Regions from separate parts of the Homo sapiens genome. Here region 1 is linked to region 2. The links come from fine-mapping of genetic effects on gene expression. Tissue or cell type: blood mononuclear cells. Region 2 holds a variant in brackets; the other region holds the start of a gene. All regions are shown on one strand. Distances are between the middles of the regions.

Region 1 (6,774 bases), 480 kb after region 2:
CGCCCGCACCTCTTCGCTGCCATCAACATGACAAAAGAAGAATTATCCCAAGTTAAAAAGTTATACATTTCACTGTTGACATTCTACAATTTATACAAGCTTCTGGATTGTATTACTTAAAAAATTAATCTTCCTTCTCCTTCCCTTTTCCTGCTGTGAGAAGAGCAGTTGTCATGGTACCCCTGGGGTGGAGGTGGATCCCTGGGGTGGAGCTTGTCATATTGTCATAGACCAAGAGAGCTAGGGAAGGAGTCTGTGTGGTAGGGGAAGAGGCAAACATTTTGCTTCAGAGCCCAAGCATTAAGGCAGGAGGGGGAAACTGGCAAAGGGCACTGGGGTACAACAGAGTGAGAAGGATATCTTCCAATGGAAGCAACTCACTGGGGTGTGTCAGAGTCTGAGTGGGGTACGAAGTGTGTCCACCGACAGTGGGGAGACCAACATGAGGAGTCATAACCAGAGTGCTGGGGAGGGTGTCCCTGTATGGAAGCATGCTGGTATGGACTCTTAGATCCAGACTGGGGTAGGGGGATGGAGGAGATGGAATGAAGAATCCAAGTCCCAGCAGGGAGAGGAGTAGATGGTAGTGAAGATGGGAGACTGAACAATAAGTAAATACATTCAGGATAACAGAAGCCAGATTTCTCACTGTCAGAGAAGAACGTTACAATATGAAAAAGGAGAACACTAGAATAGATCCTGGACTATTTGACTGAAATTGGAGGTATCAGTATGAATTCATAGTTTTCAATATACAGAGATAATAAATAAATATAGATATAAATGCATATGTATGTTTATGCATACATACCTATACTTACCAGCCCTGACCATTAACAGGACCTGGAAGGAGTAACAGCCCAACAGCAATAAACACACTAGCCTTGAGATCTTAGCTTCTAAATGTCATTCTCCACTAAAAGGAACCAGGGATCCCTAAATGGCTGATTACAGAACCAAGGCATGGAAAGTACAAGATGAGCCAGGAACAGGTTCTTGTGCCAAAAAGTACAAAGTTGTTCTCAAAGAGTGATGGGGATGTACCATAAGAACACAGAAGCCAGCTTGTACAACTCTCATTGGCCATATAAAGAACAATTTGAACATCAAAATAAATAATGCTATAGTCTGAATGTGTATGTCCCCTCCCAAAATTCGTATGTTAAAATCCTAACACCCAAAGTGATGGTATTATGAGGTGAGGCCTTTAGGAAGTGATCAGGTCATGGTGGTGGAGTCCTTGTGAATGGGATTAGTTCCCTTTTTAAAGAGACCCCAGAGAGCTCATTTGACCCTTAAGCCATATGAGGTTAAAGTGAGAACATGGCTATGAGGAAGCATGTCCTCACCAGACACTGAATCTGTCAGAGTCTTCATCTTGGATTTCTCTGCCTCCAGACTGTGAAAAATAAATTTCTATTGTTTATAAGCCACCCAGTTTGAGGTATTTTTGTTATAACAGCCCGAATGGACTAAGGCAAATAGTAACAGAATATAATCCGCGAGCTCCCCTTTCTGGTCTCACTTCGGCTGGATGTGCTTAGACTCTCCTATTTCCCACTCAAGCCAGTGCTTCGGGCAGGTGGGCTAGTGACTTTTTCCGAATAGACTAAGGCAAATAGTAACAGAATATAATCCACTAAACACACACACACACACACACACACACACACACACACACACAGACTCCATGTAGATGTCAATAAATGATTAAGAGTTTAGTGAGGAACAAGATATTTACATAGTTTCAAAGTACATGGCAAAAACAATTAAGTATTAACTTTACAGTGGAGAAGCCTCGCAGATATTACTTATATCAAGTAATCAAAGTAAAAATAACCAACAATGAAACAAAGTGAAATTGTGCACCACCTGACAGGATGCAGTGAGCATCACTTCTGTGATATCCTTCCCACGTGCATATTCGTATGTATCTAATCATGAAGGAACAGACAATCCCAAATTGAGGGGGCAGCCTACAAAGTGACTGACCTGTAATTGTTAAATATGTTAAGGTCATGAAAGTCAGGAGAAGATAAAGGAAATGTTCCAGATTGAGGGAGACAAAAGAGACATAACATGAATGCAACACATATTGCTAAACTGGATCCTTTTGCCAGTAAAGAGATTACTAGCACAATCAACAAAACTTGAACCAGTCTGAGAACTAGATGGAGTACTGTATCACTATCCATTTCCTGTTTTGGTTATTACACTGTGATCATGTAGGAGAACATTCTTGTTTGCAGAAAATGCACATTAAAGTATTCTGGGATGACAGGGCATCAGGTCAACAGCTTCCTCTCAAATTGTTGGGGGGCGGGTAGAATTTTTTGTACCATTCTTGCAACTTTTTTGCAAGTCTGTTATTGTTTCAACATTGTTGGCCGGGCGTGGTGGCTCAAGCCTGTAATCCCAGCACTTTGGGAGGCCGAGGCCGGTGGATCACGAGATCAGGAGTTCAAGACCAGCCTGGCCAGGATGGTGAAATCCCGTCTCTACTACAAATACAAAAATTAGCGGGCGTGTTGGCGGGCGCCTGTAAATCCCAGCTACTCCGGAGGCTGAGGCAGAGAATTGCTTCAACCCGGGAGACAGAGGTTGCAGTGAGCCAAGATCGCACCACTGCACTCCAGCGTGGGCAACAGAGCAAAACTCCGTCTCAAAAAAAAAAAAAAAAAAAATTGTTTAAAAGTGGGGAGGGGGGGAGGCGGAACAATGTCACTAAAAACTAAAGGTTAAAAAACTGATTTCCCACACTTAATCTTGATAGAAAAGAAACATCAGACTATGCCAAATTACTAGGAAATAAAATTTTGGATCCAGAAGTTTAAACATTTAAACTTTCTCTTTAACAATTGACCTCAATCAGGTCATGACTGGTGAAAGAGAAAAGAACATGAAAGGTTCCCACTAAAGGAGAGGAAGTTCTTAGGAGAGGAATAATGAAAGAGAGAGTGGACCAAGAGTGGGTAGAACAATGGTATTCTGAGCTACCAATGGCTGTAACCATCAGGAAAACACAATCTCAGCATCTCTGAAAAATGAAGGGGCTGTAGAGCTGATATCTCAAATTCCTTGCAAATGTGGGACTAGAATTGCCCTAAAATAGAAGTGGTTTCCCAGCTCAATTTGTTATTACATTATGCTTAGCTACATAGTAATACAAGAGAATACAAATACAGAAATAAACGTGCATGAACCCTGAATTCTCTTAAGTTGTGGAAGTCCGTCAATTAAAGTGTAAAATACAATGCATTTGCCCAATTGTTCCTTACGACGAAAATTCTGTGACAAATAAAAAGAACAATGAAAACACATTAAAGTGAAACAAGATCACCTTCAGCGGTCAGCTGGCTGTCCTTAGTTAAAAGACAAGTCATGTCACTGTGAAGTGACCGTCACATTTGTCCTGAAAGAATAGGGAGCATTTCCTAGAAAGGGGTAAAAGTGCAAAGAATCCTGTCCCCTTCCCTGGTACCACGCGTTCCTTGGGGAGGTCACTAGGCCCCCAACAGCACAGGGGTGAGTTAGCACTGGACTCTCAGCACTTCCTTTCGGAGAGGACAACCCCCTGCGTCACTGGTTACTCACTCAGGATGCAGGGCAGAAGTTTATCCCCGAGGAACTTAGCACAGTTGGCTCCCGCCCTCCCAGCCTTGCGGTCCTGGGCCCAATCTCAGGGCTCTCTCTGCCCCGGGTACCCTGCAGCCTCCAGCGGGAGGGTCGCGAGACCCCAACTCGCCTCCGGCCCGCCCAGCGGGTGCGCCCAGGGGCTGGGCAGACGCGGCGTCTTCCCTCCCCCTACCGTCGTGCCGGCCCCCCCACGCCCACCGCCAGGCTCAGCCCAGCCGAGAAGGCCGGACGCCGACCGCCCGCTCCTCCGAGACTCGGCCTGGCCCTCCCCGACGCCCGTCCCCGACGCCCGGCCCCGCGGAGCCCACTGGACAGCGGCCGGGGGGCGGGGAGGCCCGGGGGCGGTGCCGCCCCACACCCTTACCTGGCTTCTCGTGGTCATAGCCTACCACGATGAAGTAGTCAGCCAGCCGGGCCATGGCCGCCGCCGCCGCGCTCGGGAAGCGGGTCCCCGTCGCCGCCCTCGCCGCCGCCGCCCACCCGGCCCGGGAGGGCTCAGCATTTTCCCTGCAGCGGCAGTAGCGGCAGCGGCAGCGCTTCAGCCATGTTTGACAACCGAGGCGCGCTCTGCGCTTGCGCGGCGCCTAGTGCCCGCTCCTCCCCCGCCCCCACCCGCGCTGGCTCGGCTGCCCCAAGCCCGGGCGGCGAGCCCACCTCCACCCTCCGCGGGCCTCGCGGACTGCTGCGCTGGGGGAGTGGGCGGTCGGGCGTGTTCCCGCCACGCGCCGCCACCGCGGCCCCTGGAGGTGGTTCACTTTGAGGCCTGGATGCTGCTTCACGGCCCCCTCTGCCTCCCTATTTTTCCTAAAGCAGGGGGTCCTTCCTTCCGCCTTCTCTATTCTGTTTGGATTTGGAAGAAGGGATGTGGAGAGTTGAGGGGTCACTTGGAAAGCTGGCTGCTTCCTCTGCTCCCCACCACCACCAAAGATGAAATTCTCCCGCCCTCGGTTGGAAGCAAGGAATTTGCATCGACAGGGCTTTTGCTGCACGTTTCCTGTTTATGTTGTGTAGATGGGAATTTTAGAAACATGCCACCGAGCAGACGGGGGAGGGAGAGGCTTTTACGCAATCCTCCAAGGAGCCTCGGGTTTCAATGCCGGGTGGGCCGGGGGCGGTCGGCCTGGGCTTCCCCCGGAGCGCCCGGGAGAGCCAGATTCCACCGAGGAACGCGGCATCCCCGGGATCCTCCCGAACTGGGCTGGCCTCTCCCTGGGGAGCCCCGCACGCCTCGGCTTGCTTCCCTCGCAGCGGTCCCAGGGCTCTCGCAGCCCGAGCAGGTGGACTTCCAACTTCCCTGCTCAAACATGCACAAAAATGAATAGATGGTCCCGTCCTTCCGTCTCGGGATTATCAAAGTCGCTTGCTTTTTTGTTGAACCTCCTATTGACCATTTCGAATTTGGCTGGTGTGACATTCAGGTGAACTCACTTTGTCATTTGTTAATATCTCACGAAGTTTTAGTAGAATTTGTACAAGTGGTAGACCAAAGTTTTGGAAATCTCCGTGGTTTAGAAGTTGTCTTTGTGGTTGCTTATCACTGCTCACTATTAATTGAGGGTTTGATCCTTCATATTTACACATAAGACAAGGCCTCTTAGCAAAGCGTCTAGTATATAGTAGGTGCCTACAAAATATTTTAAATGAGTAAATGTGCGATTTTCCCCAACGACCAGCAGGAAGCCGCAATGGCTCCAACTCTGAACTGAGAGAGTTGACATCTCAGCTCCTGAAGATTTACTCTGCTGTAATTTACTATTTCCCCTTTCTCTGCCACACTTGTTTCATCTACAAATTGGGAGGGTTGGGCTGCACTAGAACTGAAACTGAAGGAATACTTTAACTCCAGGACCTCTATGTCAGTTGCTAATGGTAAAACTGAATCAGCTGAATTTGCAAACGTGGAGGGAAGATAGTTTGATCCTGAAAATAATTAAACCAAAAAAAAAAAAACCTCAGTCATACCCCGTGCAGCAATCCTCTCTGTAACTTCCCTGAGAGCTCATCATCCAACTTGATCACTTTCAGTAAAAAGTAATCTTACTTCCTTGGGAGGCAGCGCATTCCACTGTTTAACAGCCCTATTGTTAGAAAGTTCTTCCTTATTATTTCAGAGTTGTCTTACTGTAACTTCCCCTGATTCTGCTCTCCGGAACTATCCAGAAAAAAAAAATCTATCTTCATATGATAGATTTTTAAGGCAGCTATCATATTCCTTCCCAACTTTTCTAAAAATAGGGCAAAATTCACATATTGTAAAATTAGCCACTTGAAAATGTAGAATTCAGTGGCAATTAAGTACATTCCCAATGCTGTACAACTACCATGTCTATCTAGTTACAAAACATTTTCATCACCCAAAAGAAAACCTCACAACCATTAAGCAGTCATTCTCATTCTCCCCTCCCACAGCCCCTGGCAATCACCATTTTGCTTTCTGTCTCTATGGATTTACCTATTATGAATATTTCATATTCATATCATACAATATGTGGGTTTTTTGTGTCTTGGTTTTTCTCACTTAGTATATTGTTCTCAGCTTGTTTACGGGCAGATACAGTACAAGGTTGTAGCATCACATTGAAGTATCAATACTTCATTATTTTTTATGACTCAATAATATTCCATTGTATATTGTGTTAGACTGTTCTCACGGTGCTAATAAAGACATACCCGAGACTAGGTAATTTATAAAGAGAAGAGGTTTAATTGACTCACAGTTCCACATGGCGGAAGGCAAGGAGAGCAAAGCGGCAGACAAGAGAGCTTATGCAGAACTCTCCTTTATACCATCAAATCTCATAAAACTTATTCACTATCACCACAACAGCAGGAGAAAGACCCGCCCCCATGATTCAATTACCTTCCACCGGATCCCTCCCATGACAGGTGGGAATTATGGGGTACAATTCAAGATGAAATTTGGGTGAGGACACAGCCAAACCATATCATATGTATATACCATATTTTGTTTATCTGGAACAACCCATATGGACATATGGGTTGTTTCCACCTTTTGGCATTGTGAATAGTGCTGCTTCAAACATGCATGTACATGTATTTGAGTACCTGTTTTCAATTTTGGGGATATATTCTTGGGATTGGAATTACTGGATTAAGTAGTTCTGTTACTACTGTTTT
Region 2 (8,150 bases):
GGCAAAACCCTGTCTCTACCAAAAATACAAAAAATTAACCAGCTGTGGTGGTGTGCACCTATGGTCCCAGCTACTTGGGAGGCCAAGGTGGGAAGACTGCGTGAGCCTGGGAGGCGGAGGTTGTAGTGAGCCGAGATCACACCACTACACTCCAACCTAGGTGACAGAGTGAGACTCTGTCTCAAAAAAAAAAAAAAATTATATACATGGAATCATACTCAGTTGGACCCTTTGAGATTGCCTTTTTTTTCTTTCAATATAATGTCCTTGAGATCCCTTCAAGGTGTTGCATGTGCCAGTAATTCCTTTTTACTGTTGAGTAGTCGTCCACGGTATGGATGTATCCCAGATTGTGTAGCCATTCACCTACTGTAGGACAGACATTTGGGTTCCCCCCAGTTATATTCAAATCGGATATGTGGAAGGGTAATTCTTTAGGAAATGTGGAGCCACTGAAGGTTTTTGTTTGTTTGCTTTGAAGACTTTTGTGGAGGGGAATAAAAGGATTGTATCTGAGCTTTTGGAAGATTATGCCAGCAATTCTACTTAGGATATTCTAGATTTTTTTTTTTTCCCCCAAGACGGAGCCTCGCTCTGTCTCCCAGGCTGCAGTGCAGTGGGGGCTTCTCAGCTCAATGCAACCTCCGCCTCCCGGGTTCAAGCGATTCTCCTGCTTCAGCCTCCCAAGTAGCTGGGACTACAGGCGTGCGCCCCCACGTCTGGCTGATTTTTTGTATTTTTAGTAGAGATGGGGTTTCACCATGTTGGCCAGGATGGTTTTGATCTCTTACCTCGTGATCCACCCACCTTGGCCTCCCAAAGTGCTGGGATTACAGGCGTGAGCCACCACGCCCGACCAGGATATTCTAGATGGTCTTGATGAAGGGTGGTAAGAGCATGAACAAGACTTGTGGTCTTTCAAATTCTCATATATTCATTGAGATTATCTATTTATTGTCTATTATATTCCAGAGACTGAAACTGTAATTGTGTTAGATACTAGGGATATGAAGACTAGTATGACATAGTCCCTGTTCCCAAGAATTCTCAGACTAAGTAGAGGGCAATAGTTACATACAAATAAACATACTTTAGTGCTATAGATGTTATCAAAGAAGTCTATACCTGACTCATTAGAAATACATATAAAGTGGGAGCGTGAGGGTCAGCAAAAGATTCAAAGAATTATGAACTAAAATAACATGTGTAGTGCTCAGAACAGTGCCTGGCACATAGTAAGCAGTCGACACAAATTAGTAATTATTGTTAGTAATGGTGGTATACGGAGGCAGGAAATAGTCTAGTCCAATTGATAAGCATAATAAAAAAGCAAGATAAGAAGTGCTTTCATGAAGAACTCATATGCTTTCACCTGCCTAGAAGTGAGAAGAGATAGATGCTTGCTCCTCTCCTTTGGCCTCAGGTAAGCTTTCTGTTTCAGAGACAATGGTCTCCAAACTTCTCCCTCATCTATTTGCCAAAAGGAGTATGAATAAAAGGGCCAATATTCAAACAGAAAACAAATATAGTATACTCTTTGCTGCAAAGAGTTTAAAGGTACATGCTTAACCTTGTGACCAGCTCCTCCAGTTACTGCTTGGACAGATCAATTGAAATTCGTCAATCGGTCTTGTCTTTAATAAGTAAATTAGAGCAGTAAAAAACATAGCTTCCTGTGTGTGGGGTGAAAGGTTGGAAAGTCACTGCTCATGAGTATGGAGTTTCTTTTTGGAGTGATAAAATGCTCTAAAATTGATTGTGGTAATTGTTACAAAACTTTGTGAATGGATTCAAAACCACTGAACACTTTAAATAGGTGAATTGTATGATATATATAGTTCAATAAAGCTGTTATTTACAAAAATTATGTAGTGATCTGGAAAGTTGATCAAGTGATTACTAGAATAAAAACAAAATAAAACATAACCACATACTAACTTGGTGTCATCACAGTTAGTTTCAACTCTGGTTCCTGAAAACATAGTTCTGCCTTTCTTTCCAATCGATATTTGAGGCCAGTGTGTTTCAAAGAGGCTCACCATTCCCACAAATGTTTGACATGCCAGAACCCATTCATCCAACCCTGGGATTGTGGTCAAATGAAAGCTGGAAATAGGCCTGCTTTTCCTAGGCCAATTCAGTCTTCAACTTGCAAGCTCAGTGCCATCCAATTCTCAAACCCAATCCTGACCAAGGCCCCATCCAGAGGTCTGTATCTGATGTGCCTGCGATGAAGGCAGGAGGGAGCCTAGAGCAGTCACATCTCCCCTACCCTCACTGCATTTGAATGGATATACCTGGGCTCCCACTTATAAGTGAGAACATGAGGTATTTGGTTTTCTGCTTCTGCATCAATTTGCTTAGGATAATGGCCTCCAGCTATATCCATGTCATTGCAAAAGACATGATTTCATTCTTTTGTATGGCTGCATAGTATTCCATGGTATATATGTACCACAGTTTCTCCATGTGGTAGAAGTGACCAGTGTTCTCAAGCCTGTATGCCTGTCTGGCTGGGCCCTGATTATTTCTCCAGGGGTTAGGCTTTACCTCTTATGTTCCCAGGCACAAGCTGGGGTCCTCCCAAACTGGGCAGACCATGTGCTCGATTTCAGGACCCGTATTACCTAGAGATTTTGTTCTTAGGTAATAAGCCCAAGTTTGCTTCTCTTCTTTGAAGATGGTCATTTAGAGTGCTGGCTACTTCACTTGGGGCAAGCCCAACAGCCAGCTTAGCTGTCCTAGTTTCAGAAACCAACTAATTTTTTTTCTTTTCCATTCCTAGGAGTCTACTGCTAAGATTTCAGCATGTCCTGTGGCTGAGTTAATCAGAGTTATGACAGGAAGGTACCGGGCACACCATCGCAATGCTCCATCAATGCTAGTATGTTGTGTTCTTTCCTTCATATCAAGTCAACTCAAGCTTGCTCTACTTACCTGGTGTACACAGTCTAAGAACTGTAAGAAGACTGGAGCAAAACCACTCCCCTGACAGTTGAGGGTCAAGCTGCTCCTCTGACTGAATTTGTGACCAAAAGAGAGCCACTCTTTTTCAACCAACATCTGGAAGCCTTCAAGTGTCCTATAAAAGGGATCACTGAGTAACTGAACCAGGGATGTCACCTAGGGCATAAGCAGGATGGATTGTCATTAATTTTAGTTCTGAAAAAGGCCTATTACTAAGATAAAAGCACTTCCTTCTGATGATAGCTAATTCACAAATTTACCTGGACAGCAAATTTGTTCACTAACCATTCCAGGATGGCCAATAAAATTAATTTTGTAAACTTGCCAGTAAAAACTAAAGCTCAAATTCATTTTGGCTACAAGTTTACTTTCAGGGAATTGAGACTTTAATCCTTAACTGGCCAGTTTGCTGACAGCAACCTTTTCCTAAGTTAATCAGAGGCCAGAGGATCAGTTAAAATCAATTCTACTTTTTGGCAGATGCAGATTAATGTCTTAATGTAGTCTGAACTCACACTTTTCACTCTGGAGTGAGTTAAGGCGGGGCTTATAGAGAGCCAGGGGATGGACTGACAAAACCCAGGAAGGATGGTCCACGCCTCACACTGCTGGTCAAGGGCTCCATCCGCAAGCCTGCATGGTACATCTGTGGATGGGAGAGCTTGATGCCCGGAGCCAGAGCTCCAGGCTGCGTAGGGGCTAAGAGCTCATGGTACGGAGTTTTCTGATGGATACCAGGTGCTGTTTAACACAGGACTTTCTCTGTCCATAAACACATTAGTCATTATACAAAAGAGTCATCTGAAGAATTTAAAAATGACCAAATGGAAATATAAATATAAAATATCAAAAAATATGTCTAATAGTTTACTTGTGCAGTGATGTCCCAGCCTTCCTCCAAACAGACCAAAACTGAGGAACCATTCTCAAGTACTTCTGATACAACCACAGCCAGCTGCATTATCCTGTGAAGCTAAGAGACAGGAAGGAGAACACAATTAGACCAAGCGCTTTCTGA[G/A]TGCAGAAGTCAGAGAGAGTTGCTTTCAACCCTGGATAATCAAACGACTTAGGGATAAAGCGCTTGCACAAAAGAACCACATAATGTTTTAAATACCTAAAGTTCTTTCAAATCAAGATTAAACAATGACACTTTTGACTGGATGCAATGACTCATGCCCATAATCCCAGCACTTTGGGAGGCCGAGCCGGGCAGGTCATTTGAGGTTCGGAGTTCGAGACCAGCCTGGGCAACATAGTAAGACCCCATCTCAATGAAAACAACAACAAAATGACACTTCAAAAAAGTAGACACATTTTAAAACAATACATTCTAGTAATACATAATGAAATAAAATTACCTTACATGATTCCCCCAAAAGTAGGTGAGCTATAATTCCATAGAGTACAAAAAACAGAGATTCTATGTGGACTTCCCAACAAAAGACGGAAATTCAGATGAATTTTATTGGATTTAAAATTTGTTTTTCCATGATGTAGTAAGTTTTGTTTCAGACATTTTTTTTTTTTTTTTTTGAGACAAAGTCTCGCTCTGTCACCCAGGCTGGAGTGCAGTGATGCAATCCTGGCTAACCACAACCTCTGCCCCCCGGGTTCAAGCGATTCTCCTGCCTCAGCCTCCCGAGTAGCTTGGATTACAGGTGCATACCAGTGCACCCGGCTAATTTTTTGTATTTTTAGTAGAGACGAGGTTTCACCATGTTGGCCAGGCTAGTCTTGAACTCCTGACCTCAGGTAATCCACCTGCCTCAGCCTCCCAAAGTGCTAGCATTACAGGCGTGAACCACCACGCCTGGCCTATTTCAGGTATTCTTAATTTTTTGGGAATTAGATAGTGGTGATAGTTACACAATGTTGTGGACATACCAAAAAGCGTTGAGTTGTGCACCTTTATCATAAGGATAAATTTTATGGTAAGTGAATTATATGTTAAAAAAGAAACTCCTGGCTGGGTGTGGTGGCTCAACGCCTGTAATCCCAGCACTTTGGGAGGTTGAAGCAGGAGTAGTGCTTGAGCTCAGGAGTTTGAGACCACCTGGGCAACATGGCAAAACCCCATCTCTACAAAACATACAAAAACCAGCCAGGCGTGGTGGCATCTGCCTGTAATCCCAGCTACTCAGGAGGCTGAGGTAGGAGGATCGCTTGAACCTGGGAGATCGAGGCTGCAGTGAGCTGTGATTGTGCCACTGCACTCTAGCCTGGGTGACAGAGCAAGACCCTGTCTCGAAAAATAAAAATAAAAAAGATACTCCTATTTGTCTATACTGTGTACTAAATGAGAAAAAAACTTTCAATATATTTGTGCTAAGTTTTTAAAGCCACATCAATTGGCTCAAAGTCCTTAATAAACAATTAAGGTATGAGAATAGTATATAGATTTTAAAACCAGATGTATAACATTGTAATTTTAAAAAATATTTTAATGATCATCAGACATAATTTGCAATTTGAATCCAACTCTGAACAAGAACAAAAATGAAAAAACCCATCTCTTAAACAGAGCTAGGCTACTTTAAACACAGGAATAAGGCAAATGCCCTACTCAGTAATGAGAAGCTCCTCATGTAACTGTTTCTACAACATAGCTATCACCAGGCCTGAATTCTTTTGGGCTCAGAATTTGTTCTAAGAAATGGCTATTATTAAAAAGTCAAAAAATAACAGATGCTGGCGAGCCTGTGGAGAAAAGGGAATGTATATACATTTCTGGTGGGAATGTAAATTAGTTCAGCCATTGTAGAAAGTAGTTTGGTGATTTCTCAAATAACTTAAAACAGAATTACCATTTGACCTAGCAATCCCATTACTGAGTATATACCCAAAGGAATATAAATTGTTCTACCATAAAGTCACATGCACACACATGTTCAGTGCTGTACTATTCACAATAGCAAAGACATGGAGTCAACCTATATGCCCATCAACGGTAGACTGGATAAAGAAAATATGGTACATATACACCATGGAATACTACACAGCCATAAAAAGAATGAGCTTATGTCCTTTGCAGTAACACAGCTGAAGCAAACTAACACAGGAATGGAAAACCAAATACTGCATATTCTCACTTATAAGTGGGAGCTAAACATTGAGTACACATGGACACAAAGAAAGGAATAGACGCCTGGGGCGTATTTGAGGTTGGAGGTGAGAGGAGGGTGAGGATAGAAAAACTACCTATCAGGTACTATGCTTATTACCTGGGTGATGAAATAATCTGTACACCAAACTCCCAAGATATGCAATGTACCTATACAACAAACCTACATATGTACCCCTGAACACAAAATAAAAGTTAAAAAAAGAATTTGCTTTAAGAGTTAACTTTTAAGATGTCAATATCCCAAGTGGGCAATTATTTTCCACTGTCTTTAGTCCCTATCTTTTGGTACAGGTCCACTTTCTAGCAAAGAGTAGAGCACAGAATGTATCAGAAACATGGATAGATAAGTTGGGTGGAGGGGTCCGTTTGGAGCTGGGGCTCATAGCCTGGGGACAGAAGGGAGTATCGACCAGTTCCTTCCACGGGTATGCAAAGCACCCTAAATTGCCTTAATAATAATGAACACAGCATGATACATTTATAGCCAAATATTTATGTGGCGGCATTTCTCTTTGGTTTAAGTATCTTGAGAACAGTCACAGCCCTGAGTACTGACATCATTTCCTTTTTTTTTTTTTGCCTTTTAGTCCAATGTGCTGTGGGAAACAAGAGGCAGGATGCTTGGAGGTAGATGGAGGCAGGGGACTGGGAATTTCTGCAAGGTGATAACAAATAATGGGGGCCAGGCGTGGCAGCTCATGCCTGTAATCACAGCTCTTTGGGAGGTCAAGGTGGGAGGATTACTTGAGGCCAGGAGTTCAAGACCAGCCTGGGCAATATAAGAAATAAAGGGGCTTAAAGACAAGGCCCTTTAATTTCTCAATAAAAGTTCAATTAAGAATATCCCAAAGTTGACTGAACTGAAAGATGATAGACACTGTGTTTTTTTTTCAAGCCTTAGGTAGGCTTGGGGGCATCCAGTGTGCCTTTGGTGGGTAGTGTGGGGTGGATCTAAAATCTAGAGACCTGGGATAGGCAGACAAATGAAAGGTGAGAGCTCTTGGGAGTCATGCAGAAGTTGCCCTCTGCCCTGGATCCTTACTGTATTGACAACAGAGCAGGAGCCCTGTAAATACATGCTGATTAAATTTACATCAAAGATTTCCATCTAAAAATAATTTTCTCCTTAGTGTCCTATAGATACCAAACTTTTAAATACACAGAGATAAAAACCCAGCGATCAAGACTTCTACTCCCTCACCTCCTATACCAGATGATTTCCTTAGTCTGAAAGGCCTTTACTGATGGCACACAATGAAGGAGGAGAATGTTGGGGAGTAGGGGAACAAAGTATTTTTTTTCTCAAATACAGTTCTGTATATCTACTTGGGCCTCTGTTTCTTTGAGTTATAAAGAAAGAAGCTGCTTCAGACATTACCTGTGGGAACCACTCAGAATCTCCCAGCGCTTTCAGGAAGGTCACTTCTGAGTCAGTAGGGATGGTGCTTGGGATACAAGCCCTCATCAGCTTCTTAAAACTGGCTTTCACTTGCCGGATTTCATGAAATTCAACAGGAACAAACTCACAATTTAAAGCAAATTCTACCTTGAAGTTCTGCGGATGAAGATTCAGAGAATTAGGCAGATGAAGTGCTATAGGTAAAAGAGTGATGTTTCCAATGGGGCAGTGCATAATGACAAAGTTATTTGGGGCCAAATAGCTGCAGAGGCTGCCAATGGGTCAAGAAAGTCAATCTTGTACAGCAATGTGTCAGTGTTGGTGGGAACAGCCATTCAGTACAAGCTAGTGGTTTGCCCAGAATGGCAAATCTAGTCCTTACTAGAGGTAGATTACTTAGCCTAAGAATGCGTTCATTCTGAGAACTGGAAGAGCCTACTGGTAGACTGGAACTTGATGGAGCTCATAATACCAAATATAAGTCAATTATAAGGCCATGAACCTGGAAGTTTAAAGAGAAACTAATGATACATGGACAGTATGATTACTCCAACAGTGTAAACTAAGTCTTCCCAAGATGTATATGGTAAGGGATAGGTAACACACTGTTGGAGTTCCAGACTGTACGTGTATTAAAGTTTGTAGATATGCACATATTTG

Evidence for each region. PIP is the estimated chance that this variant, and not a neighbour inherited with it, causes the effect.
Region 1: SBF2 starts here. The variant in region 2 is fine-mapped to the expression of SBF2 in blood mononuclear cells (TOPMed, PIP 0.99).

The regions. Positions count from the first base shown.
Region 1 is chr11:10,290,015-10,296,788 of GRCh38, forward strand. It overlaps SBF2 (SET binding factor 2), which reads right to left and starts at 4,205. Exons shown (of 40, transcript NM_030962.4): 1 at 4,001-4,205. The coding sequence starts at 4,055. RefSeq lists silencers at 3,603-3,742, 3,783-3,862, 3,893-4,172, 4,293-4,342.
Region 2 is chr11:9,805,063-9,813,212 of GRCh38, forward strand. SBF2 (SET binding factor 2) reads right to left here. Exons shown (of 40, transcript NM_030962.4): 30 at 7,470-7,646; 31 at 3,839-3,940; 32 at 2,938-3,123. SBF2-AS1 (SBF2 antisense RNA 1) reads left to right here. Exons shown (of 3, transcript NR_036485.1): 2 at 2,786-4,222; 3 at 5,198-6,257. Among named protein-coding and RNA genes, the nearest start is that of LINC02709, 50 kb to the left of the region's middle. The variant G/A (reference allele first, on the strand shown) is at 3,986.